Linked DNA regions of Homo sapiens: all the other regions are linked to region 1. Evidence: fine-mapped expression QTL. A gene starts in region 1. Each other region holds a variant in brackets. All regions are shown on one strand. Distances are between the middles of the regions. Region 1 holds the start of NLRC3 (NLR family CARD domain containing 3). Region 2 overlaps CLUAP1 (clusterin associated protein 1). Region 3 has its middle 11 kb from the start of SLX4. Region 4 holds the start of LOC101929732 (a long non-coding RNA gene).

Evidence for each region. PIP is the estimated chance that this variant, and not a neighbour inherited with it, causes the effect.
Region 2: its variant is fine-mapped to the expression of NLRC3 in whole blood (TOPMed, PIP 0.92).
Region 3: its variant is fine-mapped to the expression of NLRC3 in lymphoblastoid cells (GENCORD, PIP 0.95).
Region 4: its variant is fine-mapped to the expression of NLRC3 in nucleus accumbens (GTEx, PIP above 0.99). The same link has a PIP of 0.9 or more in anterior cingulate cortex, cerebral cortex, hippocampus, hypothalamus, prefrontal cortex and putamen.

What each region holds. Positions count from the first base shown.
Region 1 is chr16:3,574,193-3,582,294 of GRCh38, forward strand. It overlaps NLRC3 (NLR family CARD domain containing 3), which reads right to left and starts at 3,211. Exons shown (of 20, transcript NM_178844.4): 1 at 2,957-3,211. SLX4 (SLX4 structure-specific endonuclease subunit) reads right to left here. Exons shown (of 15, transcript NM_032444.4): 15 at 6,989-8,102. LOC105371060 (a long non-coding RNA gene) reads left to right here and starts at 3,311. Exons shown (of 2, transcript XR_001752061.3): 1 at 3,311-4,861; 2 at 5,195-7,029. RefSeq lists enhancers at 4,295-4,344, 4,375-4,554, 6,456-7,251 and a silencer at 4,995-5,094.
Region 2 is chr16:3,501,301-3,509,402 of GRCh38, forward strand. CLUAP1 (clusterin associated protein 1) reads left to right here. Exons shown (of 12, transcript NM_015041.3): 2 at 3,420-3,531; 3 at 5,031-5,115; 4 at 6,989-7,168. Among named protein-coding and RNA genes, the nearest start is that of CLUAP1, 4.3 kb to the left of the region's middle. RefSeq lists enhancers at 446-963, 964-1,480. The variant T/G (reference allele first, on the strand shown) is at 4,841.
Region 3 is chr16:3,618,111-3,626,212 of GRCh38, forward strand. It overlaps a transcript of DNASE1 not described here. Among named protein-coding and RNA genes, the nearest start is that of SLX4, 11 kb to the left of the region's middle. RefSeq lists an enhancer at 7,884-7,983. The variant GA/G (reference allele first, on the strand shown) is at 4,103.
Region 4 is chr16:3,536,525-3,544,626 of GRCh38, forward strand. CLUAP1 (clusterin associated protein 1) reads left to right here. Exons shown (of 12, transcript NM_015041.3): 12 at 1-2,524. It overlaps NLRC3 (NLR family CARD domain containing 3), which reads right to left. Exons shown (of 20, transcript NM_178844.4): 16 at 7,722-7,805; 17 at 6,901-6,984; 18 at 6,168-6,251; 19 at 5,667-5,750; 20 at 2,509-5,391. The coding sequence ends at 5,301. LOC101929732 (a long non-coding RNA gene) reads left to right here and starts at 5,385. Exons shown (of 4, transcript XR_007064953.1): 1 at 5,385-5,778; 2 at 5,864-8,102. RefSeq lists an enhancer at 7,899-8,102. The variant C/A (reference allele first, on the strand shown) is at 4,201.

The DNA.
Region 1 (8,102 bases):
TTTGTAGAGACAGGGTTTCACCATGTTGGCCAGGCTGGTCTTGAACTCCTGACCTCCAAAAGTGCTGGGATTACAGGTGTGAACCACTGCGCCCGGCCTTGTGGAGCACGGCTTTTAAATAACCAACGCTCGGCCTGACCACCCAGAGATTTGATTGGTCTGGCAAGGGCCCCCACGTGGATCTAGTTTAAGCTCCTCCGGTGGTTCTAACCAGAGTTGAGAACCACGGGACCCGAGCGGGGCTGGGAGAGGAATGAGGGAGGGACAGTGCTGGCAGGAGTGAGGGGTTGGGGCGAGGCAGGACTCACAAGCGCCTGGGAAGGCGGGGACGGGGTGTAGGGGGCTGGCAAGCACCCCTGCCTCTGTGGCCTCATTAGTCTCTCAGTATTGGGAGTCAGCACTCCCTCCTGATCAGACACCCATCTTTGTGGCCCCATGACCTTGGGTCCAGGGTTGCCAGATTCAGCAAATTAAAATACAAGACAAACCTGGGCACAGTGGCTCATGCCTGTAATCCTAGCACTTTGGGAGGCTGAGGTGGGCAGATCACCTTGAGGTCAGGAGTTCAAGACCAGCCTGACCAACATGGCGAAACCCCATCTCTACGAAAAATACAAACATTAGCTGGGCGTGGTGGTGGATGTCTGTAGTCCCAGCTACTCTGGAGGCTGAGGCAGGAGAATCGCCTGAACTCAGGAGGTGGAGGCTGCAGTGAGCCAAGATCACGCCACTGCACTCCAGCCTGGGTGACAGAGCGAGACTGTCTCAAAAAATAATGATAAAATATGAGATATCCACAGATAATTAAATTTCAGATAAACGACATATAATTTTTAGTATAAGCATAGCTTATGTCATACTGGAGACATACCAAAGAAATGGATTATTTGAAATTCACATTTGACCAAGTGTCCTGTATCTGATCTGGCATCCCTGCTCAGGCCCCATTCAGACGAAACGTGGCTTTCATCCTGGACACTGTCCCTAAGAAGGACAGAGGAGGGGGTGCAGGTGAACCAACCCCCCTGCCATTGCCAGCACCTCCCAGGACCAGCCCCAAAGGCTGATGGGGGCTGGTTACCTGGCTGCCACCGCTGCCAGGCCCTGCACGCAGCCCTAACATCCCCCTGGCAGGCTGGAGCCTTCCACAGACCTCTCAGCCGAGTGAGGTCGCGAGGCCGCAGACGCCACTATGGATGGTCAGGCGGCCCCTGTGAGCGCAGCTGAAAGACAGAGAGACTGAGGACAGGTGGGACTCGGGTTGCTTTGGGGGATCTGAAGGCCAGAGGTCGCTCCACAGCTGGTTTGAGCTGCTGCGAGCAGGGCGAGGCCAGAGGGACGAGTAGGTGCCACTGCTGCCTCCTCCCCGGGAGCCTCCCAGGTAGCACCAGGTTTCACCCCTAGAGCTTTGTCTGTGAGCGAAGGTGAACCTGAGGCCTTCCTGGTGTGGTGTGGGCTCAAGCCCAGTTCCTCAGGCTCAGCAAGTGGCCTGCTGCCTCATTCCTGAGAAGCCTCAGTCCCGACGGACTAGCCGCCTCTGCCCATCACCCGCCCACCTGATCTGTGCCTCAGTCCTTGCCGGGACCTGCTGGGTCCTTCCCTGCCACTTGGCGCCCGGGTGGGACTTCCCAGTGCTGGCTGCCTACCTGGGCTGCCAGTATCTCCCACCACGGCTGCTTGGATGCTCCTCTCTTCCCACATCCTGCCCCTGCCCCCTCCCAGGGCCTTGGAATTCAGGACTCGGTTCTCTCGAGGTGGCCCCAGCATCATCACTTGAGCTCAAAAGCCTTCCCGAAGGAAGAAGGAAGTGGCACCTGCACCTCAGGGCCCTACCCTGCTCACTGCATGGACCCCTGGAGTCCAAGGGGTGGAGAGGCCCAGCCCTGGGGAGCCCAGCACCCTGGGACAGAAGAAGAGGGGTGCAGCCTGCAGCCTGTGATGGCCAACAGTGAGCCCCAGGCTCAGGGTCACCTCCAGGGAGGGGTCCAGAAAAACACCAGGGCCTCTGGAGCCTGGCCATAGGGGAAGACCCTGCAGCCAACACCCAGGCTGGCCCAGGGCAGTGGCACTTCTTCCGAGAAGGCCTCTGCGGTTGCCGTCTCTCTCGACCCTTGTCTCACCCAAGGCTGTGGGCAGGAGAGGCCCTGGGGCTGCCCACTCGCCTGGGGGCGGCGCCTGCACCCTCCCTGCCCCTCATGACCTCGCCCCTCCTGTGCTGTCACCTCCATCTACAGGTGGGGTGCTGAGGCCCAGAGAAGTAGCCTCCCATGGGGGGTCCCAGTGCCAGGAAGGGTGCCCAGGTCTGCCGATTCCCCAGGCCGTGGCTCAGCATCACCACTGCCTGCCCGCAGCACCTTCAAGATGCTTCCTGCTTCTCCTGGGCCATCACTGGTACCTGGGGGAGCTGGGTTTTGTCCCTGGGACCTGTCCTGGGCCATTCTTAGTTACCTGTTTTTTCTTTTCTTTTTTGTTTTGTTTTGTTTTGTTTTGGAGACAGTCTCGCTTTGTCACCCAGGATTGAGTGCAGTGGCTCGATCTCGGCTCACTGCAACCTACGCCTCCCGGGTTCAAGCGGTTCTCCTGCCTCAGCCTCCCGACTAGCTGGGTGGGATTACAGGCGTCTGCCAACATGCCTGGCTAATTTATTTTTTATTTTTAGTAGAGATGGGGTTTCACCATGTTGGCCAGGCTAGTCTCAAAGTCCTGACCTCAAGTGATCCGCCCACCTTGGCCTCCCAAAGTGTTGGGATTACAGGCGTGAGCCACCGTGCCTGGCCACATCTCTTTTTTCTACAGCATGAGCCAGTCCTGCCCCAGGAGACAGCTTCTTGGAGTCTCGTGGAGTCTCCCCAGTCCCCCTCCCCAGAGTAGCTCAGGCCTTAAGGCCACTGTCCTTCCTGCCAGCATCCCTTCTCCCTCCCCTGCCCTGCACTGAGGTCACCTGGACCCAACTTACCTCCCGGGCCTCGATGCTGCTCCAGGGACAGCAAGACTGGGGGGCCTGGGGGCGTCCATCTCCATGCTCCTGGGCTCAGCCCTGCTCCAGCTGCGTGGTGGTAGATGCCCTGGGAATCCCTGTGCCAGCCTGAGTTCTCAGGACCAGGGATCAGGGCACTTACCACGCCAACCAACCAACCGTGTGGGGGCCGAGAGCAGTGCAGCCCCGACCTTCTGCAGCCCCACCGAGCCCACCGGCTGTCCCTGTGGCTCCGGGTCCTCACCTCTTCCTGTGCTGGGCTCCACCTCATTCTTCCTTCCTGTCTGATTTCAACAGCCAACAGCCTCGCAGACACATCGAGGAGCCGGGGCACCCTGGCTTGGTCACCGCCCCCGTGCAAGTTAAGTGCGGGGGCGATGCTGGGGGTCTTGACTCTGGGATTAAGTGTCCCTGCAGGTGGCATGCTCAGGATAAAGTGGCTGGTGCCAAGGCTGTTGACACATCACCTCCATCCCGCCACAAAGGAAGCTGCCCCGCCATCAACAAATGCTTGTTTTCAGGCGGGTGGTCAGGAAATCAAGTGAGCAGCCTGAGGTCACGCAACTAGAGGGTGACCCCAGCAGGACTGGACTGTGCCCTGCCACCTCCAGGCCACCCCTGTGGCTCTCCTTATTTATTTATTTAATTTATTTATTTGAGACAGAGTCTCGCTCTGTTGCCCAGGCTGGAGTGCAATGGCACGATCTCGGCTCACTGCAACCTCCCCCTCCCAGGTTCAAGAGATTCTCCTGCCTCAGCCTCCTGAGTAGCTGGGATTACGGGCATGCGCCACCATGCCCCGCTAATTTTTGTATTTTTAGCAGAGGAGGGGCTTTGCCATGTTGGCCAGGCTGGTCTTGAACGCCTGACCTCAGGTGATCCACCCACCTTGGCTTCCCAAAGGGGTGGGATTACAGGCGTGAGCCACTGCGCCCAGCCTATTTATTTTTTGAGACAGGATCTTGCTCTGTCACCCAGACTGGAGTGCAGTGGTGTGATCTCGGCTCACTGTAGCCTCTACCTCCTGGGGCTCAAGTGATCCTCCTGCCTTGGCCTCCCAAAACACGGAGATAACAGGTGTGAGCCACTGTGCTCCCTCTTTTAACACCTCTTGCTTTCTTTTCTCTCTGTCACCCAGTAGGCACCTCTGACTCAGCTGTGCCCCATAACATCTTCCTGTGAGCAAAGGGCTCCCCAGAGGCAGGTCACCTGTACCCTAAGAGGAAACAGCAGAATGTTGCCGTCCGCGGCAGGAGATCGCACTCGGCCCCTGGAAGTGGACCTCAGTGGGTGGCCTGCCCTGACAGGGAAGGGCGTGAGGGGGAAGGACATGGCCCAGAGCAAGCCACATGAGAAAAATTACAATAAAGTATGGGACATCCGCTGGGGACAGGGAGCAAGCAACATGGGGCCACTGAGGGAAGGAGGTGACAAGGTGGGAGCCAAGGGACAGGGGTCCTGGGGTCTGAATTTTCCTCAGCAAGCAAGTGGGAGCCAGCAATGGTTGTAGAGCAGGAGAGTAGTGGGTCTGGACTCATAGAGCAGCTTGTGGCTCAGGGGAGGTAGGAGGGTTAGCTGGTTCCCCAGAGCCTGTGTGGGTGATGGGGGGGAGGGAACTGAGGCAGCAGACCAGAAGTGCTCCTGCACATTCCCCTGCCTGCCTACCTTCTTTTGTCCCTCCTTCCTCTCCCTCCCTCCCAACAATGCTTTCTGAGCACCCAGGAACCTGCTGGGTGCTGGGAGGACACGATGGACCCTCGAGAAGGCTGCCCGAGGCTCCAGGCAGGCAGAGTGCAGACCCAGCAGCTGCAGCCTCGGCTGTGGGGAGCAACAAAGGCGCCTGAAACCAGGCCGCCCACAGGATGTTGGAAACCACAGGGCCCGGTGGGTATCCGTCACATAAAAGGGGCCAGAGGCTCACACTGCCTCCCTTTGTGGCTCAGGGGGATGGATGCGGAGCCTGAGAGGACACAGCCTCATCCACGGGATCTTGGGGAGCAGCCCAACCCAGCCCAGCCCAGCCCCGCCCCGCCCCGCCCCGCCCGTTCCTCCCCCTCGCAGGAATGTCCATCAGTCCACACAGGGCTGGTCCCATTCCCCACTCTGCCCGCTCTGCTGAGAACCAGGTGGGCCGTCCTCCTGGCTCCTGGTGGAGGTGGGGGTGCTGGGCTGGGGGCTCCCTAACTGTTCTCACTCTGGGGCTTTCTGTCCACCCAGAGCTGGGGTCAGCCAGACAGGAAGCGACCTCAGCCCTTCCTAACTCAGCAACAGCGCAAGGCCCCTGCCTGCAGGCTCTTTCTTTGTAAGTGCCCTTGCCTGGGCCCAGGCTGGGGTGTGGCTCCCCTGTGACTGCCTTGAGGGGCTGTGCCCAAGCCATGCCAGGTTGGGGCCACCAAAAGTGGGACAGGCCTGGAGGCCTGTTCATATTACAGTGAGGCATAGACAGACCCGTTTTCTGATTTAGTTGTTACCAGTGAAAGTTCTGCTGCCAGTCTTTTATTCTCCCCCTTTAGAAATGTTTTTAATATTGTTTTCAAAATAGAGACTTGGCCTTACTATGTTGCCCAGGCTGGTCTCAAACTCCTGGGCTCAAGTGATCCTCCTGCCTTGGCCTCCCAAAGCACTGGGATTACATGTGGGAGCCACCGCACCCGGCATGCCAGCTTCCTTCTCAGTCACTCCTGGAAGGTAACTCTCTCTCGCCTTGTCCATGAAGAGGCCCCATTGCCTGCCAGTCTTGCTGCAGGCGCTGTGAGAAGGCATTTTCCATCTGTCAACTGGACCTAGTTTTATGTTGCCCGGGTCAGCGTCATCCCTGTAGCAGGGGCCAGGTCTACTCCTGGATGCCACCACGCCTCTGTGGGTTCCTGCAGTGACTCCTTCAACCCTTTCCCTCTGGAGGAATCAGCTGCTTCACAGCTTGTTTCAGGACAAGGAAATGCTGCTTTGTACAGGTTCAGGGCCAGCATCCAGTCCCCTGGCTGGGTGGCAGTGCATAAACCAAGCCTCTGCCCAGCGCTGTCAGCCCAGGGAGCGTCCAGCAGCCCCAACTGAATCCAAGGTCACCACAAGGCTCGAATCCAGTCCCCAGGCCATGCCTCCCCTGGCCTTGGGCTCACACTGCACTCAAGGCTCCTAACCCAGCTTGTTAACTACTTGGAACCCCTCCCCCAACCCATCTTTACCAGCCTTGAAGTTCTGAACTTTCAAGTCATGGCACATAACACATACTTCCCCAAACCACAAACCCTGCGAGGCCGGACAGGGGCCCCGAGTCCCCCACCTGCACCACTCCCTCTCGCTTCCCTAACACCAGGGAGGGGGATCAGCCCATCAAGGAAGCAGTGCGTGATGCCTTCCGAAACAGGCCAGAGGCCAGCCTCAGATTGATCACAGCTGATCTCAGCCTCTCAAATTGTTCGCCCCGGGCACCGTAAGCTGGGAGGCCTGGGCCTCTCCGCTGGTTCACGTGCCAGGACATAGTATGTGCGCCAGAAATCACATTTCACCCCCTAAATGCTGCTGAGCCCTAAGATGCAGCTCACAAACCCCTCTTCTGGGAGGCTGTCCCTGACACGGCCCTTCAAGCCACTGGAGCCCGACTCCCCACCAGGCTGGGATAGGCCAGCGTCTGTCTCCTCCACTGGACCGGACGCAATGGTAAAGGCATGTGCTGTCTTGGTGAGTTGTGGGGTGGGGCCTGAATCTGCTTTTGTAGCAACTCCCGGCTGAGGCAGCAGCTGGGGGTGCTTGGGCCCCACTTTGAGGTGCGGGGGCTGGAGCTTGGCACCCAGCCAGGGCTCTGTTGGATACGGGTGTGTGGATTAATGGATGAACATCTGCATCTCTGGTCTGGGAACTGAAATGAGGAGACAGCAGGCCCAGGTTACTCCAAAGTAAAGGGCAGGTGCAAGGTGGGGACTTCTGCAGGCGTGGGGCACGGGCTGAGGGGCCACGGTGCCTCCAGGTCCCCCGTTTCGCTCGTGGTCTCCCTGGAGTGTGGCAGCCAGATTTTAATAAAGCCTTTTTGGTTTATTGCACATCATATAAAACTGACTGCACTGTATTTGAAACAGACGAGGACATTCACAAGGATGGAGAAACCAAGGTTTCCTTCTTTCCTGGCCCTCATCTTCCTCCACACTGCTCCTGAGGCTGGAGGCAGCTTTAACCCAAAGAATGGAATCCGCTAGTGAACATGTTTGTTTTGTGGTGGCATCAGAGTTGTTCTGGGCCCTTGTGCACTGTCCAGTTTGGAGACTGCTGGTAACAATGACAAGTGTCCGGGTAGCACGGCTGGGTCAGGAGAACTGCATCTGGGCTGTGGCAGTGCAGGGAGCCTCAGGACACCTGGTCTCAGGCTGGCGGTGGCTGGGGTTGGCCTGAGTGCTGAGGAGGACGGGCCCGGGCTGCCGGGGCAGGCTGGACCTGACGTCCATCTCAGGACAGACATGTAGGGCAGCTGTGCCCAGGACTGGTGGGCTCAGAGGGTGGCAAATGTGGCAGAATAGGCCATGCCCTGGCCAGCTGGTGATGGCCCACTGCCCCCTGGGACAGCTGAGGGCCCTCTTGGGTTAAGGGAGACACACTGGGCCGGGCGCAGTGGCTGGCGCCTGTGATCCCAGCACTTTGGGAGGCCGCAGCAGGCGGATTGCCTGAGCTCTGGAGTTTGTGACCAGCCTGAGCAACATGGTGAAACCCCGTTTCTACTAAAATATAAAAAATCAGCTGGGCGTGGCAGCGTGTGCCTGTAGTCCCAGCTATCTGGGAGGCTGAGGCAGGAGAATTGCTTGAACCCGGGAGGCGGAGGTTGCAGTGAGCCGAGATTGTGCCACTGCACTCCAGCCTAGGTGACACAGCACGACTGTCTCAAAAAGAAAAAAAAAAAGAAAACCAAAAAGGGAGACACACTGTGAGCACGGACAGAGGAAGGGGCTGGAGTCTGTAAATCCAGTGGGTGACATGCTCCAAATGCCACCCTAGAAAGCAGAGCCCAGAGGAGGAAGCCCTGGATTGGGCTGTGGTCATCATCACAGCGCAGAGCTGATGTGGTCCCCAGGCCCAGAAATGCCTGTGGAGGCCTGACCCACGCTGGGTGTCCCAGGTCCTCCCTGCAAATGGCGGG
Region 2 (8,102 bases), 73 kb before region 1:
CTCTATCTGCCACTGGCCGCGTGTGGCTCAGAACGCTTGAAATGTGGCTAGTGCAGATGAATAACTGAATTTTTAAGTGTAATTTATTTCTGTTTGTGTAGCTGCATGCCGCTCTTCGCTACCGTATTGGAAAATGCATGGAGAGTTTAGAGACTATTTTTTGAGTTGGGTTAGCTTAGCGCTTAGAAAACCGAACAGCAGGCCGGGCGCGGTGGCTCACGCCCGTAAGCCCAACACTTTGGGAGGCCGAGGCGGGCGAATCACCTGAGGTCGGGAGTTCGAGACCAGCCTGACCAACATGGAGAAACCCCGTCTCTACTAAAATTACAAAATTAGCCGGGGGTGGTGGCGGGCGCCTGTAATCCCAGCTACTCGGGAGTCTGAAGCAGGAGAATCGCTTTGGAGGTTGCGGTGAGCCGAGATCGGGCCATTGCACTCCAGCCTAGGCAACAAGAGCGAAACAACATCTCAAAAAACAAAAAACAAACCAAAAAAAAAACAACCAGCAACGAAACCGAGGAGAGGAGGCTGGGTGATAATCATTGCGGCTAACATTTTTTGAGTTTTAACGATCTGCCAGGGCCCGCTCTGTGTTATGCGCATTTCATTTTAATCATCTGAACAACTCTGTGCCCCCTGTATTTGGTAGTGAGGAAACGGGCACAGAGAGGTCAGGTAACTTGGGCAGGTGATACAGGCGGTAGGAGGTGGCACTGGGGCTTGAATTCAGGTTGCCTGAACTCCAGACATCCTGAACTCCATCTGCATCCTTTCTGCAGGGCTGGTAAGGAGAAGGGAGCTCGAATTCCTTTGCTAAGAGGGTGGGGAAGTGGAAGAACGAGGCTAAGAGTGTTGGTTACGGCTGGGCGCAGTGGGTCACGCCTGTAATCCCAGCCCTTTGGAAGACCGAGGCAGGCGGATCACTTAATTTCAGGAGTTCTAGACTAGCCTAGCTAACATGGCGAAACCCTGCCGCTGCTAAAAATTCAAAAAATTAGCCGGGCATGGTGGCGCGCGTCTGTAGTCCCAGGTACTTGGGAAGCTGAGGCAGGAGAATTGCTTGATTCCGGGAGGCAGAGGTTGCAGTGAGCCAAGATGGCACCACTGCGCTCCACCCTGGCCGACAGAGTGAGACTGTCTTTAAAAAAAAAAAAAAAAAAGGAAAGGTAGATGATGATTGCCAATTTGGTGTGATCCGAGGGGTCTCTTAAAGCCAGTTTTCTCGTCCAATTGTTGGTGCCTGAAATTTTAGCATTAGAGATTACTCCTTTTGGTTATGAATTGCTCTTTTCTACAATGTAAAAATATCTAGGAAGACGCATTACCTTTTATCCATGCAGCCACTGAGCACCAGAGTGTGAATCCTGCCCTCTGGGGTTTGAAGGTTTTTGGTGGCCACACATCATGCAGGATGACTGTCTCCTCCCACATAGTTTTTAGAGAGGCCAGCACCCTGCCGGGGGACGTAGAATGGGGTTTTGTTGGGGAGCGCACACACGGAGATTTCGGAATATTTTGATCTTAAATTAATGCTCTGCAGTTGTGCAGTGTATGGTAAGGATCTTACTCAAATTAGTGTCTATTTTGACAATAACACCGCAGCATTAACAGAACTTGACTAGTACCTAGTGGTCAGGAGTATTTAGGCAGTGCCTTACTGTGTGAAGGAAAGGCTGCTGCTTTCTTTTCTGTTCTTTTTTTGAGACAGTCTTGCTCTGTCTCCCAGGCTGGAGTGCAGTGGTGTGATCTTAGCTCACTGCAACCTCTGCCTCCCAGCAATTCTCCTGCCCCAGCCTCCCCAGTAACTGGAATTATAGGCGCCCGCCACCACACTCACCTAACTTTTGTATTTTTATTTTTATTTTATTCTTTTCTTTTTTTGAGATGGAGTCTCGCTCTGTCACCCAGGCTGGAGTGCAGTGACGCGATCTCGGCTCACTGCAAGCTCCGCCTCCTGGGTTCACGCCATTCTCCTGCCTCAGCCTCCTAGTAGCTGGGACTACAGGTGCCCGCCACCACACCTGGCTAATTTTTTTGTATTTTTAGTAGAGACGGGGTTTCACCGTGTTAGCCAGGATGGTCTCAATCTCCTGACCTTGTGATCCACTCGCCTCGGCCTCCCAGAGTGCTGGGATTACAGGCGTGAGCCACTGTGCCCGGCAACTTTTGTATTTTTAGTAGAGGTGGGGTTTCACCATTTTGGTCAGGCTGGTCTTGAACTCCTGACCTCAGGTGATCTACCCTCCTCGGCTCCCAAAGTGCTGAGATTACAGGCGTGAACCACCCGCGCCTGGCCTTTTTTGTTTTTGTTTTTGAGACAGGGTCTCACTCTGTCACCCAGGCTGGAGTGCAGTCACATGATCTGAGCTTACTGCAACCTCCTGGGCCCAGGTGATCGTCCCACCTCAGCCTGCTGAATAGCTGAGACCACAGGCATGCACCACCACACCCAGTTAATTTTTTTTTTAATCTCTGTATTCACATTTCCCAGAAAACAGTTACAGAGTCCCTTTGTGACTTTGCTGTTTCCTGTGCTCACACTTTCTGTTTCATTGTCTTGCGAAGTCTGACCTGACTTGCAGTACCTAGGTAGGTTATTTGTGAACATTGATGGACCATTTTGAACATGGATCTTCAAGAAGAGTGCAGACAGACCTTAAATAACCAGGAAGCACACTGAATGTAGATCTTGGTACATATGGGAACTCAACAAATGTTTGTGGTGTTCATTTCCAAGTCCTGCTCTCTTGAAAGCACTAAGGCTTTTCCTGAGGTGACCCCAACCTATGGATCAACAAGTATTAGTATTACTGTTTCTTAATCTGTTTTATAGTAAATCTAAATATGGTTGTATAGTTCAACCACTCTATTTAAGATTTCTCTAAATACAAGGCGACTGATCTTTAAAACTTGTGTTATTTGGGTCCTATGTGGTCACTAAAATTAAAAAAAAAGACAACTCAGAAACATGAATGTCATCCTACGGATTCCCCTCAGAAATAACCACTGTTAACATTTTAAAACACTTTTTAATCAGCTGAATTTGAGTCAAACCACTGTTGACATTTAAAAATACTTTTTCTTCATGACATTTTATAAGGACGGGTGTTTCTTCCTTTTAGCAGTAAAAAGAAATGAGATACTAAAGAGAGAAATGAAATTCACAGCTAATCCCTCAATTCCATTTTCATGTATAGCCATCTACTTCTCCCATTGAACTTAAATATATGCTTTTTAGGTAGCATTTTTGGTATTTTAAATTTTATCTCCTTTTTGCTTTCCCTTGTAGAAAGTTGACAAATAGTCCCTAAAGCTGTCAATAGGTTGGAAATAAGAAGGAAAAGTAAAGACAATATCTAAGTTAATAAGTAGTTGCTGTGTGATGGGGAACTGAATGAATTGTATTTTTCCTTGGACAGATTTCACAGAGATGATGAGAGCCCTGGGATACCCTCGACATATTTCTATGGAAAATTTCCGTACACCCAATTTTGGACTTGTATCTGAAGTGCTTCTCTGGCTTGTGAAAAGGTTCGAACGGCACTTTATTGACATCTAAGAGTGAATACTGGGTTTTATTTATTAGTCATCTAGAAAACAGGACACAGCTGTGATGCTGCAAAAGGGAAAGTTTTTGGAATTTGACAGACCCAGCTGTATTCTGTTACAAAGGAGTTGTGGCTGGGCACAGTGGCTCACTGCTCTCATCCCAGCACTTCATAATCTCAGTCATTCAAGACTAGCCTCATCAACATAGCAAGACCCTGTCTCCATACACAAAAGAACAATTAGCTGAGCCTGGGTGGTACACACTCATAGTTCCAGCGACTCAGGAGGCTGAGGCAGGAGGATCACTTGATCCCAGGAGTTTGAGGCTGCAGTGCCACTGATCATGCTATTGCACACCAGCCCGGGCAGATTGAGACTGTGTCTCAAAAAACAAAATCAGGCCGGGCGCAGTGGCTCACGCCTGTAATCCCAGCACTTTGGGAGGCCGAGGCGGGTGGATCACGAGGTCAGGAGATCAAGACCATCCTGGCTAACACGGTGAAACCCCATCTCTATTAAAAACACAAAAAATTAGCCAGGCGTGGTGGCGGGCGCCTGTGGTCCCAGCTACTCAGGAGGCTGAGGCAGGAGAATGGAGTGAACCCGGGAGGCGGAGCATGCAGTGAGCCGAAGTGTGCAGTGAGCCGAGATAGCGCCACTGCAGTTCAGCCTGGGTGAAAGAGCGAGACTCCGTCTCAAAAAAAAAAAAAAAAAAAAAAAATCAGTGGAGTTTAAAGAATGCTGTGGGAGTGGGAAATATACCAGGAAGTCGTGAAAGGAGACGACTATTCCTCAGTAGGATGCTGGGCCAGGCTGCTCTTCAGCCCCTCATGGCAGAGTGACAGGGGCCTTTTTGCACATTCTGATCAGTACACTGGATTAGAAATAATGGAGATTTCTTTTTCTGTGAAAAAATTGAATATGTTATATGATTCAGGGTTGGCAGCTTTTTCTGTTAAGGACCAGATAATATTTTACCTTTTGCTAAATATAAAATTCATAAGATCTCTATTGCGTCTCTTCTTTTTGTTAAAATGTAAAAACAGTTCTTAGCTTGCAGGCTGTACAGGTCGGAGGCTGCAGTCTGCTGACCCCTGGTTTCAATACCTTGAAGAAAATAACTTCACCAACTCTGCTGCTGCTTAGAGCTGACTAATCGGCCCTAGCACTGATCTCTGAGTCAAGGGCTGTCAGCCAGGGTAGCAGTTCTGATTAGCTTCATGACATGGTGAGATCTGAGAGAGATTTAATTTTATAAGCTGAGATCCACATTTAGTTTTTGAAATCTGTT[T/G]TTCTTAGGTGGGGATTTGCTCCCTTGGTATTTGGTTTTGCTTTTGAAGTTTGCCTTGATCTCACTCTCCCACTTGGGGACTTGGAGAGCGTTGTGTTCCAGACCCGCTGTCCTCTCAGTTGCCCACATTCTCTTTAGTAGACTTTCTCCTTGGTTAACCCGTGCTCTCTCCTCTTACCTCTCTTGATAGATATGAGCCCCAGACTGACATCCCGCCTGACGTGGATACTGAACAGGACCGAGTTTTCTTCATTAAGGCAATTGCCCAGTTCATGGTTAGTGGACACTTATTTTGTGGAGTTGTAAAATTAAATAAACTAGAAAGGATGACTCCTTGTTAGGGCGACTTTCAAACTGTGTAATTGAGTTTTTCTTTCTTTTTTTTTGAGATGGAGTCTCATTCTCTCGCCCAGGCCGGAGTGCAGTGGCACAATCTTGGCTCACTGCAACCTCCGTCTCCTCGGGGGTTCTCCTGTCTCAGCCTCCCGAGTAGCTAGGATTAGAGGCACACGCCACCACACCTGGCTAATTTTTGCATTTTTAGTAGAGACTGGGTTTCACCATGTTGGCTAGGCTGGTCTCAAACTCCCGACCTCAAGTAATCCACCCTCCTTGGCCTCCCAAAGTGCTGGAATTACAGATGTGAGCCACCACGCGCCTGGCCTGAGTTTGCTTTCTAAAACCATTCCATTGCTGGGTTTCTGTGGCACCATTTCACCAGCGAAGTTCTTTTTGTTTGTCTTTTAATTCATTATTTGTTAAGAATTTTGTTTATGCCAGGTGTGGTGGCTCACGCCTGTAATCCCAGCACTTTGGAAGGCCGAGGTGGGCGGATCACGAGGTCAGGAGATTGAGACTATCCTGGCTAGCAGGGTGAAACCCCGTCTCCAGTAAAAATACAAAAAATTAGTTGGATGTGGTGGCGGGCACCTGTAGTCCCAGCTACTCGGGAGGCTGAGGCAGGAGAATGGTGTGAACCTGGGAGGCAGAGCTTGCAGTGAGCCGAGATCACGCCACTGCACTCCAGCCTGGGCAACAGAGCAAGACTCTGTCTTAAAAAAAAAAAAAAAGAATTTTATTTATTTATTTTTGAATAGATAACATATTTCATGGCTCACAAATTGAAAGTAGGCTGGGCGTGGTTGTTCATGCCTGTAATCCTAGCACTTTGGCAGGCCAAGGTGGGAGGATAGCTTGAGTCCAGGAGTTTGAGAACAGCCTGGGTGATGTAGTGAGATCCTGTCTCTACAAAAAATAAATTTAAAAAAAATTAGATGGGCCTGGTGACACGTGCCTGTAGTCTCAGGTGCTTGGGAGGCTGAGGTGGGAGGATTGCTTGAGCCCGGGAGGTTGAGGCTGCAGTGAGCCGGGATCATGTCATTGCACTCCAGCCCAGGTGACAGAGTGAGACCCTATCTCAAAAAAAAAAAAAAAATTAAAAACATTATGAAACAAAATGGAGTAAAATGACTTTTTACCCTATCTGCCCTGGGCCAAGTTCCATTCCAAATAACCACTATTTTAAATCTCTTCCAGAGTTTGTGTGTGTGTGTGTGTGTGTGTGTGTGTGTGTGTGTGCAAATAAAAATATATATTTTTCCTTTGTTTTACACAAATGGTACTGTATTCTACTTGATGTACTTACTGTACACTACAAGATGTTTAGCATCTTGCTTTACTTAATGGTATATTTTAGAGAACTTTCCAAATACATATAGAATTTCCTCATTCTGTTTACGCCTGAGTGGTATTGCTTGCATGGATTTGCCATAATTTATGTAATTTATATAGGTAGGCTTTTAGGTTGTCTGAAGCTTTGCTCTTTGGAACAGTGCTGTAACAAATAACCTGTACATCTCATTTTGTTTGTGTTTGAGTGTGTCCCTAGAATAAGTTCTTAGATTTGGGATTGCTGGGTCAAAAGATATGTGCATTTGTAATTTTGATGTCTTTTACCAAATTGCTCTCCATCAAGATTGTCCCAGTTTATACAACCACTCACAATGTTTGAGTCACTTGAATGCTTTGCTTTTATTAGGTTATATCCCAGTTGTCAGCAGAGGCATTTTCAACTCACCTACATGGGATTTAGTTTAGACATTACATGGAAAGGGCCTTCAACTTTTTTTTTTTTTGGTCTAAAAATAGGCCACCAAGGCACATATAAAACTCAACACTAAGAAGCTTTATCAAGCAGATGGGTATGCGGTAAAAGAGCTGCTGAAGATCACATCTGTCCTTTATAATGCTATGAAGACCAAGGGGATGGAGGGCTCTGAAATAGTAGAGGAAGATGTCAACAAGTTCAAGTTTGATCTTGGCTCAAAGGTAAGGACAACAAAAGCCTTGTAGTGGGCGATGGAGCGTTGATTTCTTGAGCTCTGAAGTGGAAGGAGTCTGCTACAGCTCCGCTGCTTTTCTTCCTCCTCAGCTGAGGGCAGTTTGTCAGTTTTGTGCTCATCAGCATTTGGATAAAGTCAAAGTCACAATCCACTAATTCAACTATTTATTAAAAGCTTAGTATTTGTCAGGTAGCATTCAAGCGCTGAGGATACAGTTGTGAACAAAAAGGACAAAAATCGTGTGTTTATTCTCTTCAGTTAGGGGAGTCAGACTGTGAACAATAAGAGGTGTGGAAGGCCAGATGCAGTGCAGGCTGTGGAGAATAATAAGCTGGGATGGGGATGGATGCTGCCCAGAGTGATCTTAAATCGGGTGATCAGGAAGGCCTCATGGATTGGATGGTGTTTCCAGCAGAGATCCAAGGGAGGGAAAGAGTGAGTTGTGCGGGTGGCGGGTGGCGTCAGGGTGTCTCAGGATGATAATTTGTTTTGGGCTGGGTGCAGTGACTCACTCCTGTAAGCCAAACACTTTGGGAGGCCGAGGTGGGAGGATCCTTTGATGCCAAGAGTTCCAGACCAACCTGGGCAACATAGTGAGACGCCATTTTTACCAAAAAAAAGAAAAAAATTAGCTAGGCGTGGTGGTACACACCTGTGGTCCCAGCTGCCCAGGAGGCTGAGGTGGGAAGATCTCTTGAGCCCAGGCAGTCAAGCCATGTTCATGGCACTGCGCTCCCGCCTAGGCAACAGAACGAGACCTTGTCTGGGGGGAAGAAAAAAAATGTGTTTTGTGTGTTTGAGGAAAAGCAAGGAGGCCGTGTGATGAGGGTTGGGATTGACAGACCCTCTGGCGCCTGGGAAGCCCCTGGAAAGCCTTTGTCTTTGCCTCTAAGGTGGGAATCGTTGGGATCCAAGCGGAA
Region 3 (8,102 bases), 44 kb after region 1:
AGGACTTGAATAGACATTCCAAAGAGTGGCAGGTGCCAACAAGCACATGAAAAGATGATCAGCATCATGAATCGTTAGAGAAGTGCAAATTGAAACTGCAGTGAGATACCACTTCATGGCCAGTAGGACAGCCATTTCCTAAAAAAAAAAAAAAAAAAGTATTGGTGAGGATGTAAGGAAGTTAGAACTCTGATACATTGCTGGAGGGAATGTAAAATGGTACAGCTGCTGTGGGAAACAGTTTGAGGTTCCTGAACAAGTTAAAGATAAAATCATCATATGATTCAGCAATTCCGCTTCTAAGGATATGTCCCAAAAAATTGAAAAAGTGTTTAAGGGCCAGGCGCGGTGGCTCACGCCCGTAATCCCAGCACTTTGGGAGGCCAAGGCGGGCGGATTACCTCTGGTCAGGAGTTTGAGACCAGCTTGGCCAATATGGTGAAACCCCGTCTCTACTAAAACTATAAAAATTAGCCGGGCTTGGTGGTGGGTGCCTGAATCCCAACTACTCGGGAGGCTGAGGCAGGAGAATCACTTGAACCTGGGAGGCAGAGTTTATGGTGAGCTGAGATGGTGCCATTGCACTCCAGCCTGGGCAACAAGAATGAAACTCCGTCAAAAAGAAGAAATGCTCAAACAAAAACGTGTACACCTCATATTCAGTCTAAATGCCCTTCAGTGCATGAATGAACAAAATGTAGTATAGAATGGAATACATGTTACACTGAACATTTGCTTATTTCCGTTTTGTAATTTTTTTTTAGTGACAAGGTCTCATTTCTGTTGCCCAGGCTCGAGTACAGTGGCACAATCATGACTCATGGCAGCCTCAGACTGCCAGGGATCAAGTGATCTTTCTGATCTTCCCAACTTCCTTATCTTCCTGACTCAGCCTACCTGTAGCTAGAGCTAGAAGGGCCCCTGGGTAATTTTTTTTTTTTTGAGACGGGGTTACACTCTATCATCCAGAATGGAGTGCAGTGGGGCAATCTCAGCTCACTGCAACCTCCACATCCCAGGCTCAAGTGATCCTCCTGCCTCAGCCTCCCTAGTAGCTGGGACTGCAGGCATGTAAAACCACACCTGGCTAATTTTTTGTATTTTTAGTAGAGAAAGGGTTTTGCCATGTTGCCCAGGCTGATCTCAAACTCCTGCGCTCAAGTGATCTGCCCACCTTGGCCTCCCAAAGTGCTGGGATTACAGGCATGAGCCACAATGCCTGGCCTGTGGGTAATTTTCTTTCTTTCTTTTATTTTTTATTTTTTTTTGGAGACAGAGTCTCGCTCTGTCGCCCAGGCCGAAGTGCAGTGGTGTGATCTCAGCTTACTGCAAGCTCTGCCTCCCAGTTGCATGCCATTCTCCTGCCTCAGCCTCCCGAGTAGCTGGGGCTACAGGCTCCCGCCACCACGCCTAGCTCCATTTTTGTATTTTTAGTAGAGACAGGGTTTCACCGTGTTAGCCAGGATGGTCTCTATCTGCGGACCTTGTGATCTGCCCACCTCGGCCTCCCAAAGTGCTGGGATTACAGGCATGAGCCACTGTGCCTGGCCGCCTGTAGGTAATTAAAAAAAAAATTTTTTTTGTAGACACAGGTCTTGCTATGTTGCCCAGGATGATCTCAAATTCCTGGGCTCAAGTGGTTCTCCTGCCTTGGCCTCCCAAAGTGCTGGGATTATAGGTGTGAGCCACCACGCCTGGCCCTCAGTATTTTTAAAAATTCTAATTTCCATTTACAGCTCTACTAAATATTTCATCGAGTCAGCAGATTGGTTATAAATATAACGAAAATTCATATGTATGGCTTTTCTTTTTTTTTTTTTTTTGAGACAGAGTCTTGCTCTGTCACCTAGGCTGGAGTGCAGTGGCATAATCTCGCCTCACTGCAACCCCCGCCTCCGGGGTTCAAGTGATTCTCTTGCCTCAGCCTCCTGAGTAGCTGGGACTACGGGCATGCGCCATCACGCCTGGCCAATTTTTGTATTTTTAGTAGAGATGAGGTTTCACCATGTTGGCCAGGCTGGTGTTGAACTCCTGACCTCAAGTGATCCACCCGCATCGGCTTCCCAAAGCGCTGGGATTACAGGCATGAGCCACCTCGCCAGGCCTGTGTATGGCTTTTCTTTTAAAAAGTTTACATGTCATATTTACCACATTACATTCATTGAGTCACATCATTCATCACATCATTTAGTCACGTGACTGGGTAACAAGCATTTCAGAGATCAAAAGGCTTCGTATAATTAGTAAAGAAACCTTTTATTTATTTATTTAGAGACAGAGTACTCAGTGTGTCACCCAGGCTGGAGTGCAGCGTGGCCTGATCATAGCTCACTGTAACTTCGAGGCTGCAGTGAGCTGTGATCATGCCACTCTACTTTAGCCTGGGTGACAGAGTGAGACCCTGTCTCAAAAAAAAAAAAAAAGTAATTATACTATGCATATTGCATCATGAGCATTTCTCTAAGTCAGTAGATAGGAAGCCATATTATATTCCATATTTAATCAAACATTCCCCTGTTGATAAAGATATATTTATAGTTTTTATCATTATAGATTATGCAATAAATGTCTTTGTACTTATAACCTGTATGTGTGTGTTTTTATTTCTTTTGGAAGGAGTCCTAAATCTAGGATTTCTAGGCTAAAGGGTATGTGTGTTTTGTTTGGTTTGCCTGATTTTTTTTTTTAAAAAGTTTATTATTTATTTTGAGACAGAGTCTTACTCTGTCACCCAGGCTGGAGTGCAGTGGCGCAATGCCGGCTCACTGCAACCTCCGCTCCCCAGGTTCAAGCGATTCTCCTGCCTCAGCCTCCGGAGTAGCTGGGATTACAGGCGCCTGCACCACACCTGGTTAATTTTTGTATTTTTAGTAGAGACGGGGTTTCACCATATTGACCAGGCTGATCTTGAACTCCTGACCTCGTGATCCACCCGCCTCAGCCTCCCAAAGTGCTGGGATTACAGGTGTGAGCCACTGTGCCCGGCCTATTTTATATTTTTTTTAGAGACAGGGTTTTGCTGTCATCCATGCTAGAATGCAGTGGCACGAGCATAGACTCGAACTCTTGGGCTCAGACAATCCTCCTGCCTCAGTATCCCGAGTAGCCAAGAGTACAAGCGTGTGCCACCACACCCAACTGACTTTTAAAAATTTTTGTAGATATGGGGTCTTGCTATCTTGCCCAGGCTGATCTTAAACTCTTAGCCTCTGGTGATCCTCCTGCCTCCAAAAGTGCTGGGTTTACAGGTATGAGCCATTGCTCTTGCCTGGTTTACCTGTTTTAGAAAAGAATACCTGTACATTGTTAATTTTTTTTGTCCAGGAGCTTCAGAAGGGTACAAAAATTCCCTCCTACTTCTGGCCCCCTGACCTCCAAACTCCCTCATCAGAGGCTTCTTGAAATATTCCAGATAATTCTGTGCACATACAAATATAAATATATATCCCTGCTTTTCCCCAATGTAAATAAACGGTAGCACATTTTACCCATTGTTCTGAACCTCGTTTTTGCAACTTAATGAACTGTCTTGGAGATTTTTCCTTATTACATATAAATCTATCATTTTGTTTAGCAGTTGCATTATATGTCATCATTTGGATACATTCATACTTCATTGTATCACCTATCAAGGGACATTAGATGGCTTTCATTTCCTTCTACAATGGCTAATGGTGCATTGAACATACTTGTATATACTTTTATGCAGATTTGCACATATATTTGTAGGATATTCCTGTAACATAAGTGGAATTGCTGGGTCAAAGGATATGGGTAAATCAGAGTGTTTTGGGGTGTTACCCAGTTACCTTCTAAAGAAGCCAAATTGGCCAGGCGTGGTGGCTCATGCCTGTAATGCCAGTACTTTGGGAGACCGAGGCAGGTGGATCACTTGAGGTCAGGAGTTTAAGAACAGCGTGGCCAACATGTTGAAACCCCGTCTTTACTAAAAATATAACATTAGCTGGGCATGGTGGCGCACCCCTGTAATTCCAGCTACTCCAGAGACTGAGGCAGGAGAATCGCTTGAACCCGGAAGGTGGAGGTTGCAGTGAGCCAAGATCACACCACTGTACTCCAGCCTAGGTGACAGAGCAAGACT[GA/G]AAAAAAAAAAAAAAAAAACGGAGGCTGAATCAGTTTCCATTCCGTTAACAATGAATGTCTTTTTACTCATATCCACACACTCACAGAATATATCATGAAACATTTTGTCTTTTACTATTTCAGCGGTTAAAAATTGGTGTCTTGTAGCTTTACTTTACATTTCTTTCATTGAGGAAACGAGTATTTTCTTCACGTGATTAAAAGCTACTTGTTTACCTATGACCTTATGTTTGTGGGCTTTGCATTCTTTTAGATTGTGTGATTAATCTTTTTCCTATTGGTTTGTAAGATTATGTGATTAATCTTTTTCCTATTGATTTGTAAGAACTCTATATTGTGGAAATGGATATAGTGTTACAATGTTACAGATAGTTTTTACCAGTTTTTATCATTTGACTTAAAAAAATTTTTTTTCTTTTTTGAGGTGGAGTCTCACCATGTTGCCCAGGCTAGACTTGAACTCCTGGGCTCAAGTGATCCCCCTACTTCAGCCTCCCACGTAGCTGGGACTACACCTATGTGCTACTGTACCTGGCTTGGCTTTGACTTTTAATAAAATTTTTTCCATGTAGAGCTTTACAGTTTTTTGTAGTAAAATAACTTTTCTTGTATGCACATACCTTCTTCCAGTGTTTGACTCACCTTTACGTTCTCTTAATGATGCCTTGTAATGAACAAAGGTTCTTCAAAGCTGGAGGCATCACATTACCTGACTTGAAATTATACTACAAGGCCTCTTTTGGGAGAGTGAGGGGAAAGGATTTCTTGAGAGCTTGAGACCAGCCTCGGCAACATAGTAAGACTCCATCTCTAATGTACCTGCCCCCCACGTCCCCCCAAAAAAATTAGCTGGGCATGGTGGTGCACACCTGTGGTCCTAGCTACTCATGCAGTAACTAAAACAGCATGGTACTTGTACATATTTTTGTACCATAGATCAGTGGGACAGAATAGAGAACCCAGAAGTAATGCCACTTGCCTGCAACCAACTGATCTTCAATAAAGTTGACAAATATGCAGTGGGGGAAGGACACGCTATTCAATAAATAGCGCTGGGAAAATTGGCTAACCATATATAGAAAAATGAAACCGTACCTCTATCTCTCACCGCATACAAAAATTAACTCAAAGACTTAAACATAAGACCTGAAACTCTAAAGATCTTAGAAGAAACCCTAGGAAAAACTCTTCTGGATATTAGCCTAGGCAAAGAATATATGACTAAGACCTCAAAAGCAAATGCAACAAGAAGAAAAATAGGCAAATGGGACTTAATTAAATGAAAACACTTCTACACAGCAAAAGAAATAACAGAGTAAATAGACAACCTATAGAATGGGAGAAAATATTTGCAAATTAAGCCTCTGGCAAAGGACTAATACGTAGTATCTCCAAGGATCTCAACAAGAAAAAAAAACCCATTAGTAAGTGAGCAAAGGCTGGGCGTGGTGGCTAACACCTGTAATCCCAGGACTTTGGGATGCTGAGGCAGGAGGATCACTTGAGGCCAGGAATTAGAGAGAAAGTAGGCAAAGGACAAGAACACATACTTCTCAAGTGAAGACATACAAGCGGCAAAGAAACATGAAAAAGTGCTCACATCAGTAATCATCAGAGAAATGCAAATCAAAACCACAGTGAGATATCATCTTACACTGGTCAGAATGGCTATTATTAAAAAGTCAAAAAACAACAGATGTTGGCATGGATGCACAGAAAAGGAAATGCTTATATGCTGTTAATGGGACTGTAAATTACTATAACCTCTATATAGAAAACAGTATGGAGGCCAGGTGCGGTGGCTCACTACCTGTAATCCCAGCACTTTGGGAGGCTAAGGCAGGCGGATCACTTGAGTGCAAGACCAGCCTGGCCAACATGGTGAAACCCCGTCTCTACTAAAAATACAAAAATCAGCTGGGCGCGGTAGTGCACGCCTGTAATCCCAGGAAGCTGAGGCAGGAGAATCGCTTGAACCCGGGAGGCAGAGGTTTCAGTGACCTTAGACTGTGCCACTGCATTCCAGCCTGGGCGACAGAGTGAGACTCTGTCTCAAAAAAAAAAAAAAAAGGTTAGTGGCTTTTGTGTCCTTGGTTAGCAAGGTCTTCTCTACTTTGAGATTATAAAGTAATTTTCTGCATGTTTTCTTCTAGAGTTTTTATTTTTACATTAAAATTGTTATTGGCCAGCTGCGTAAGGCACCTGGTGGTGCTCTAGGCACTGGGTTAGCGTCCCTTATGCCGAGCTCTAAACCTTCAGAATGCCCTTGCCGCCCCTGGCTGAGTTCACAGTGGCTGAAGCTGTTCCCATAAGACCCTGAATCTAGCAGCCACTGTGTACTATACCTGGAGCAGTCCAACTGGGTGGACTGTGCTCAGCATCCGAACATCTAGACAGGCAAAGCCATTCCCAGTGGTGGCCCAAACCAGCAAACATTGTGTAACAATTTTTTTGCAATCAATTTTTCTTTTCTTGTTTTTTGAGATGGAGTCTTACTTTGTCGTCACCCAGGCTGGAGTGCAGTAGTGGGAACTTGGGTCACTGCATCCTCTGCCTCCCAGGCTCAAACAGTCCTCCCACCTCAGCCTGTATTCTATTTCTGTAGCTGAGAATATAGGTTTCTTCCAGCACACCTGGCTAATTTTTTATTTTATTTTTTATTTTTAGTAGAGATAGGGTTTTGCCATGTTGCCCAGGCTCGTCTCGAACTGGGCTCAAGTGATTTGCTTGCCCCAGCCTCTCACAGTCTGAGATTACAGGTGTGAGCCATCATGCCCAGCCTGCAGTTTTTCTTATTAAAACTTAATGGGGGCCGGGGGCAGTGGCTCACTCCTGTAATCCCAGCACTTTGGGAGGCCTAGGCGGGCGGATCACCTGAGGTTGGGAGTTCAAGACCAGCCTGGCCAACATGGTGAAACCCCGTCTCTACTAAAATACAAAAGTTAGCCAGGTGTGGTGGTGCATGCCTGTAATCCCAGCTACTTGGGAGGCTGAGGCAGGAGAATTGCTTGAGCCCTGGAGGCAGGGGTTACAGTGAGCCGAGATCGTACCACTGCATTCCAGCCTGGGCAACAGAGTGAGACTCTGTCTCCAAAACAAAAAACAATAAAACAAACTAATGGGGCTAGGCATGATGTTATATTCTTGTAGTCTCTGAAACTTGGGAGACTGAGAAGGGAGAATTGCCTGAGCCCATGGTTCAAGGCCAGCCTGGGCTGTGTAGTGAGACCCATCGCTGCAAAAAAAAAATTGTTTAAATAAAATTAGCCAGCATGGTAGCACATGCCTCTACTCCCAGCTATTCAGTAGGCTGAAATGGGATCGCTTGAGCCCAGGAGGTCGAGGCTGCAGTGAATCATAATCGCCTTTCTGCACTCCAGCCTGGGCAACAGAGCAAGACCCTGTGTCAAAAAATAAATAAATAAATGAAACGGCCAATATAGAATAAAGGTGCTAAAAAAGGCATAGGAGGGAATCTTCATGACTTTGGGGTAGGCAAAAAATTCTTAAACAGGGACACAAACCACTAACCATAAAGAAGTGACAAATTATGTGACATTAAAATTAAGAACCTTTATAAGGCACCATTAAGAGGGTGTAAAGGGCTGTGCATGGTGGCTCATGCCTGTAATCCCAACACTTCAGGAGGCCGAGGCAGAAGGATCGCTTTAGCCCAGGAGTTTGAGATCAGACTGAGCAAAATAGTGGGACCCTGTCTGAACAAACAATTTAAAAATTAGCCGGGTGTCAGGGCATGCGCCTGTAGTCCCAGCTACTCTGGAAGCTGAGGTGGGAAGATCACTTGAGCCTGAGAAGCCAAGGCTATAGTGAGCCGTGATTCTGCCACTGTACTCCAGCCTGGGCAGCAGAGCAAGACTCTATCTCAAAAAGGGTGTAAAGATACCACAGACTAGAAGATGTGTGTGATGTGCACGGGACTAGTATCATATGCACAATGACAAAGGATTAATATCTAAAGAAATCCTAAAAAAAAAAAA
Region 4 (8,102 bases), 38 kb before region 1:
CTTAGTGATTCACATCCACGGGACAAAAACTCAAGAAGAAATAAGAGCTGACGCCACACAAGTCTTGGCTGCTTTTGTTACTATACATTTTCTCTGAGACTCCAGCAGAGTTGGGGCTGGAACTTGGCACTGGGGACTCATGTTTGGAATCGTAGGGGAACATCTGGCTGTTAATCACTTGCACAGTTGAGAACATTTCCTATACATCGGCTTTTAATTCTAGCTCTTATTTCATTTTGTAATCTTATTTTCTTTCGTCTGCATGTTCACAATACCAAGCATTAAATGTATTTTAATAACTAAACTTTTCTGAAAGAAGGTTAGCTAAAGTTAAATGAAAACTTGGTTTCTTTGAAAATCAGGCAATAGAGACAGGCTCCAGATGAGGAATCCTCCATTTTCTGTCCGAAGCTGACATTCCTCTGGCAGTCCAGTTCACCTTGGATTACAGCCACCTTCATGTTTCCACGGTTGGTACTAAATCTGGAAACTCTGGTGACCTGGGCTGCCCTCTCAGAAACTCCAGACTCCCATGGCAATGACAGCCGGGACACTTTTCTTCCCTCCAGCCAGGGTTTCTCTAAAGGAGCTTTGTTTTGTCTAAAGTGTGGCAAGACATAGTGCACAACACAGGGACAAAGGCAGGTTTCCTGCAGCTCGCTACCTAAGTGTTTCTGTAGGGGAAGGAGCCAATTAAGAAAAAGTGTTGGTACAGATTCATGTTTCTGATTTAAAAAAACAACAACACAGGATTGAATTAAGTAGAGTAATAGCACTAGAAGAATTTTTCTGTTGTGAAATTAGAAGTGGAGTTGGTTTTTTTCTTTTTTCTTCTTCTTTTTTTTTAATATGAAAAGTACTTAGCTGGGAGTGGTGGCAAGCGCCCTTGGGTCCAGCTACTCAGGAGGCCAAGGTGGGAGGATCACTTGAGCCCAGGAGTTTTAGACTAGCCTGGACAACTAAGTGAGACTCCATCTCTACAAAAAATTAAAAAATTAGCCAGGTGTGGAGGGGCATGCCTGTGGTCTCAGCTATTCAGGAGGCTGAGGCAGGAGAATCACTTGAGACCAGGAAGTTGAGGCTGCAATGAGCCGTGATCATGCCACTGCACTCCAGCCTGGGTGACAGAGTGAGACCCTGTCTTTAAAAAAAAGAAAAAGAAAAGCACGCTGCTTGTAAAAAGCGTACAGTAGGTCAGGCGTGGTGGCTCATGCCTGTAATCCTAGCACTTTGAGAGGCTGAGGTGGGTAGATCACCTGAGGTCAGGGGTTTGAGACCAGCCTGGCCAACATGGCGAAACCCCACCTCTACTAAAAATACAAAAATTAGCCGGGCGTGGTAGCGCATGCCTGTAACCCCAGCTACTGGGGAGGCTGAGGCAGGAGAATCGCTTGAACCTAGGAGGCGGAGGTTGCAGTGAGCCGAGATGGCGCCACTGCACTCCAGCCTGGGCAGCAGAGTGAGACTCCATCTCAAAAAAAAAAAAAAAAAAAAAAGCATACAGTAAATAAAAAAGCACAAAACAGTTTTCACTTATTTTACAATTAAAAAGTCAGAAGACTTCTGAAGTTACTTATCTTTTAATACATGTATTTAACACCATACTTCATATTATTAAATAGGTTTTACTTAAAAATATAATTATTGTATTTGTACCTGTCAGATATAAATACTTATTCAGGAGTTCACAGGTACGAAAAGATACACATAAATTTTAGGAACTTTTGAGTTATTTCTGTCATTTTTGCTTTTTTCTCTTTCTTTTCCTAAATTTTATGTATAAGATTACCCCTAAAAAAAAAAAAACAGCCAGTATTCAGTGAATTCACCAGTAATTTGAAATGCACCATATTGTAAATGATCCACTGACAGGGAAGCCAGCGTGTTGGAGCCATGCCAGCCACCTCAGACACCGTGGCTCTAAGATGCGGAAGAGTCACTGCATCTTCTTGAATGTTACAGATTTGGTTTGCCTGAATGTGACTTGACTTCTGTTTTGAAAAAACATACGAATAGAGTTCTATTTTCCTTATGTGATGCTTTCTTCTAACACACTTTAACACAGAAGCCTAACCTAGCTACAAAGAGCCTATCCACAGACATAGGCAACAGCTCCAAAGGGTATTTCATTGTGTCACCTGCTTCTAGATCATCTGTTAGTTAACTGACTTTGTGCAAGGTCTCACCATGTATAGCACTGCCTTGCTTGAGCACGGAAGTTTCTGTCAACAGCAAGCTTTATGTGCTCTATCATTTTTATTAAAGTATTTCAGTCAATAGTGACCCATTGTAGAATGGATGCAGGATTCACATGTGCAAGTGCTTTGTGACCTGGCACCATTTGGTTTTGGCCAAGCAGCAGAGCAGACCTCAGGACCTAACGAGGATGGTTGTGATTAGGTCAAATAGAAAACTAGCAGGCCATTGCTGACAATTTTTACTATATAATTAGAGGACTTCCTAAAATGCTTTAAAAAAAAATGTGTATGGATGGAAAATACAAAGGAATTTTTCAAATACTCAATTTTTATTGGTAGTAGTTATCAAGAACAAAGTCCTCGGACTTCTGATGGGAAATCTGAACTGCTGTTTCTCTTTTAGCGTACAAGAAGAAATAGATCCCTCTCATTAGCACTTTAATATCAGTGTCACGTGTCTGGAAGGAAATTGTATTCATTTAGGTAAGCAACACACTACATAAATATCATAGCTGTTAGACCCAGGGGACTCTCAGGTGCCAGAATTGGGGACTCCTTTAATTGGAAGGGAGCTAAAGGGTCTACCTCCTACCTAGAAGTCCTTTCTATGTGGATATGAATTAAATTCTCTTGTCTGTTTTGCTCTGATGGGGTCTGTGTGGGCTAGCTGGCTCTGGTGTGTGCCTGACGACAGACTGAACTCCTTAACCATTTCAGACAGCTTGAAGATGTATGATCATTATTTGAAAAGGGAGAGAGGGAGGACTCTTTGTTTTCTCCACCAGTTTGGCTCCTGAGGTTTCTTCAGCGTTAGGTTTCTGTAGGGCCCAGCTTTCTCCAGTGTTTGGCTACTGCAACTCTGTGTTCTGCCAGTCTCTTAACTCAGACAGAAACAATGCAAACCAGCAGACAGAGCATCACCTTGAAAGTACTAAAACAGCTGTCAATCTAGAAATCTCTGCCCCGCAAAAACTGTCATAAATACTGCAAGACCCATGTTCAGATTTCCCCCCTTTTACAAATAATGTTTTGTTTTATTTCCCAGCTACTACAAGTGATCCAAATGTTCTTTATAGCAGACTTTTTCCTGCAGTCTAGGATCCAGTCAGAGATCTTGCATTAAATTATATCTCTGTAATCTTTAATTTCACGCTATCTGCAATGTTTTGTGTTTTTCATGACATTGATGTTTTTGATGAGGTCAGGCCATTTATTCTGCAGAATATCTGTCAATTTGGATTTTTTCTAATTGTTCTTTCATGATTAGAATCAGGCAAACATTTTTTGACAAGAATACATCAGAGACGACTCCGTGGTGCATCAGACTGGGGGCATGTGATGTCTGTGTGTCCCATTATTGGCGATGTTCAATTCTGTCACTTCTGTTGAGGCTGCATTTGCCAGATTTCAGATTAAGGTACCTTTTTCCCTTTGTAAATTAGGATATCACCTTTGTGGGGTGCCGTTTTGAGACTGCAAGGATATCATCTTCCCGAGTAGGCCTTCATCCATGGCCTCAGCATCCATGATGGTTCCTGTCCGGATGCTCACTTTTGAAGAAACATTTCAAATAATAGTGATTCCTTTCCAATTCAAAAGTAATCATTGCTTTATAGTCTTCATAAATATTTTCTGTGGTTATTTAGTTGATGAAAGCTGTTGATGTCCATTTGGATTTTTTTCCCTCCAACACAAACAGCTGCAGGAATTGGTGCCACATAGAGGCTCAGCTTGCCTGTCTCCATGGAAGCTGTGGCCACAGCAGTGGCTTTGGAAGCCTAGTAAGGAATGACATCACTGCCAGGTGCAGTGGCTCACACCTGTAATCCCAGCACTTTGGGAGGCTGAGGTGGGTGGATCACTTGAGGTCAGGAGTTAAAGACCAGCCTGATCAACATGGTGAAACCCCATCTCTACTAAAAATACAAAAATTAGCTGGGTGTGGTGGTGCGTGCCTGTAGACCCAACTACTTGGGAGGCCGAGGCAGGAGAATCACTGGAA[C/A]CCATGAGGTAGAGCCTACAGTGAGCTGAGATCATGCCACTGCACTCCAGCCTGGGTGACAGATTCTGTCTCAAAAATAAATAAAGAATGACATCACTGAATACACTGAATGTGCTATTGATAACCAGTGTGCCAGACTCCAGACAACATGTGCCAGGCATCACCCATGTCTTTGATTTTGTAATAAATAAAAAATGGGGCCAGGTGTGGTGGCTCATGCCTGTAATCCCAGTACTTTGGGAGGCCCAGGCTGATGGATCACCTGAGGTCAGGAGTTCGAGACCAGCCTGGCCAACATGATGAAACCCCGTCTCTACTAAAACTACAAAAATTAGCCGGGCATGGTGGCGGGTGCCTGTATTCCCAGCTACTGGGGAGGCTGAGGCAGGAGAATCACATGAACCCGGGAGGCGGAGGTTGCAGGGAGCTGAGATCGTGCCACTGCACTCCAGCCTGGGCGACAAGAGCGAGACTCCATCTCAAAAACAAACAAAAAAGGCAAAATCCTTGGAGAACTCTTACTGTCTCTGTTTCCAGAATCCTAGAATTAAAACTTTCATTTATCTTCACAATTTTCCCATAGCTTTTTCATGTCTGTAAGGATGATACCCTGAAATCTTCTTCTTGAGAAGATAAAGAAGGGTCCCCTCTGTTACCCCTACCAAACGGATGCTCCTCACGGGCTTGAGGTGGCAGCTCATCTCAGAGCATGGGATGATTTTTAACCAGGTGAGTGGAAAGGGGCAGTAATAAACATTTTTAAAGGTTGGGGACACATGAAGTCCTCAGGGTGTAAAGCTGGAACCAGCCTCCTGTACTGCTCAGCTTTCAGGCCTTTGGCCCCTAGTCCCTTGGGGGTGGCCCCTCCCTTCTCTGTGCCATAACAGAGTACCCGTCACCCCCTGCCTGGACCACTCCTGCAGCAGAAGAGGAGCTCACGACCTCCTCCGGCAGCACCTCTCCTTCCTCCCTGCAGAGCCCGGCTCTCGTGCTGAGCAAGCAGCGTTCCCAGCTCCCAGACAGGCCCCCCAGAAGTCGGCCTTTCTGTTCAAAAGCTTCCAGCTGAGCATCTGCCCATTCTCCTGATCCGTCCACCAGGATCACATTTCAACAGTGCACGTGGGAGCATTTGTCTTGATGGCCTCTGAGATCATCCTGGCCCCGGAGTCCCCAATGTGGTTTCCCTGGAGACTAGAAGAGTAGGGTTAAGGCAGGGCTCAAAGCCTGCAGGTTCTCTTTAGTAGAGCAGGCCATACAATAGAAAATGCAGGACCCCATGCAAAGCCTTTGTGCTTCTAGGATCCCCTCGCTACATGGACAAGGCTCAGGGTACCTCCCCTTAGACCAGGTTTCCCTATAGGCCTGCTGAAGCGTCTGGGGGTCAGCTGGCTCTCAGAACTGGGCAAAAGGCAGTGCGCCACCTGGAAGCAGTTCTAAGGGTGAGCAGGAAGGGCAGGTGCACTCACTTGATATGCTGGAGCCTGTGGTTTCCAGACAGTGCTGTGGCAATGCATATCGCCCCGTCCATCCCCAGAGAATTCTCTTGAAGACTAAGTGGAAAAGAGATGGAGACACACGGTGAGCCATCAGGGCAGAAGGAAAACACCCGGGGAAGCAACAGTGCATTGTCTGGGGGCAGTAACCCAGGCAGATGTGTCCACAGGTGCCATGGCAACTCCAGGTGGGAGTTGACCCTGGAGACAGGTGTCTACGAGTGGCCAGATTGTCCCACGCAAGTGCGCTGGAGGATGTAAGGCCATAAATGCAAGATGTGAGTGACTTCTGACTGAAGCTAAGCACACTCAACAAACCCAGCTGCAGTGGAATGTGGACTATAATAAGTCTGATTGTTTATATTCAGAAGGAAATAGCTACAGAAGAAATCAGGAGCATTTTATTCCATCAGGGAGGACCCAGCAGAGAACTCTGCTGCTCCAGGATGCAGGTAGGTCCCTCCAGCCACTTACTTGAGTCTCCGGAGACTTGAGTTTACCTTCAGAGCATTTGCCAGGGCTTTGGCTCCAGCCACCCCAATGGCATTTCCTCTTAAGCTGTTGGGAAAGACAGGAAGCCTAAGGCATGGGTACAGGCTGAGAGGTGATACTGACCCCTCTGCGGGTGGGCTTGGGGCTGCTTGGTAGAGGAAACAAGGACTTCAGCAGTCACAGGAGGCCAGGGCTGTGCCTTCCTCACTCCAGGGCAACAGGGCAGAGCTGGCTCTGGGAAGCAGGGCACACAGGGGCATGGCTGGCCTAGCCAGGAGGGTTGTTGGAGCCTTCCTCCTCTTCCATTTCAAACAGAAAAGCGGGGCTGAGACAGGAGAGGCAGCCCTCCATCTGGGCAGGTCCCCAGTGCTCCCAGCAAGGGCAGGAATTCTGAGGACATGCCTGAGCCTCAGAGCTGTAACCTCACCCCAGGACTTTGGATCTGCCCAGAGAACAAGATCAGCCCCCCTGGGACCCATAAACCAGGCCTCTAGACGTGTTCAGCCTGGCAAGGCCAACCCGGAGAGGAGGGCAAATGATAGCGACTCCCAGGGAAAGGCATGAAGTGGGGCTGGGAAACTGGTATACTTGCACTGAAATGAAGATCACCAGGATGATTTGTGAGTTGTCTGTAAACTTTGTCCCCATATCTATTCATTGAGAATTCATTGATTTCTTTGGGCTAAAGACCATAGATGGAGACTGGAATACTTACTCGAGAATCTCCAAGGTTCTGTTCACAGCCAAGGCTTCCCCTAGCACCTGGGCGCCTGAAGCACCAATTGAGGCCACCTGGAGACTGGGGCGGAGAGGGTGCCGTCAGTGTGAGCCGGCTGGGCCCACCTCCCTCCGCATACTCCGTTCCCTTTCACCACCCCTTGACTCAGGATGGAAAGTGGAGAAACAGCACTGAGAATGGTTGGCCAGCGCTGTGTCTAGGCACTCCATCTCCTACCTACACTGTCTGTTGCCTAAGACAGAGATCTGGATGCTAAGGAGATGAGAAATAGAGGCTGTCCCTGGAAGGGCTCGGGGAGAATGCTCCCTGTACCTCCTCATTACTACTCTCTAGGTGTTTGAGCCCCCAACTGCTAATATCATATTTCCTATATTAGGAAAATCAAACACACCTTCCTTGACTTGTAAACAAAAATAACGTCCAGGCCAGGTGTGGTGGCTCACACCTGTAATCCCAGCACTTTGGGAGGCTGAGGTGGGCAGATCACCTGAAGTCAGGAGTTTGAGACCAGCCTGGCCAATATGGTGAAACCCCGTCTCTACTAAAAATACAAAAATTAGGCTGGGTGTGGTGGTGCACGCCTGTTATCCCAACTACTGTATGGGAGGCTGAGGCTTGAGAATCACTTGAACCCAGGAGGTGGAGGTTACAGTTAGCTGAGATTATGTCACTGCACTCCAGCCTGGGTGGCAGAGCAAGACTCTTGTCTCGAGGAAAAAAAAAAAAAAAAAGACCTCTAACGTGAAAGGATGGCGAAGGGACCGGTTTCCTGACTGCTGCGCACATCTAGGACTTACTAGAGAGCAGTGAGGGCTGTGTTGACCTTCAGTGCACGGGCCACCGCACACGCTCCGTCATCCCCGATGGCGTTCTCCTGTAAACTAGACACAGAGTATGACCCCTTTGGGTGCACGGGGCACAGGGAGCATTCTAGCAAGGCCCTGCCGCACTTGGACCTGCCAGGTTTAACCGACTACACACACCATAGACACTCCCAGGGTTTCCTGGGGATAACTGCCCTTCCTCCACAGGCCCTGCAGCCCGCCGCCTCATACTAAGCACACAGAGGCGTCTGGGGCCTGCATGAGTCTGAACCGCCAGAGGCAAGCAGGAAATGGGACATATAGAGTGACTGTCAGCAGGGGCTTGGGACCCAAAAGGGGATGCTTTTCACAGCC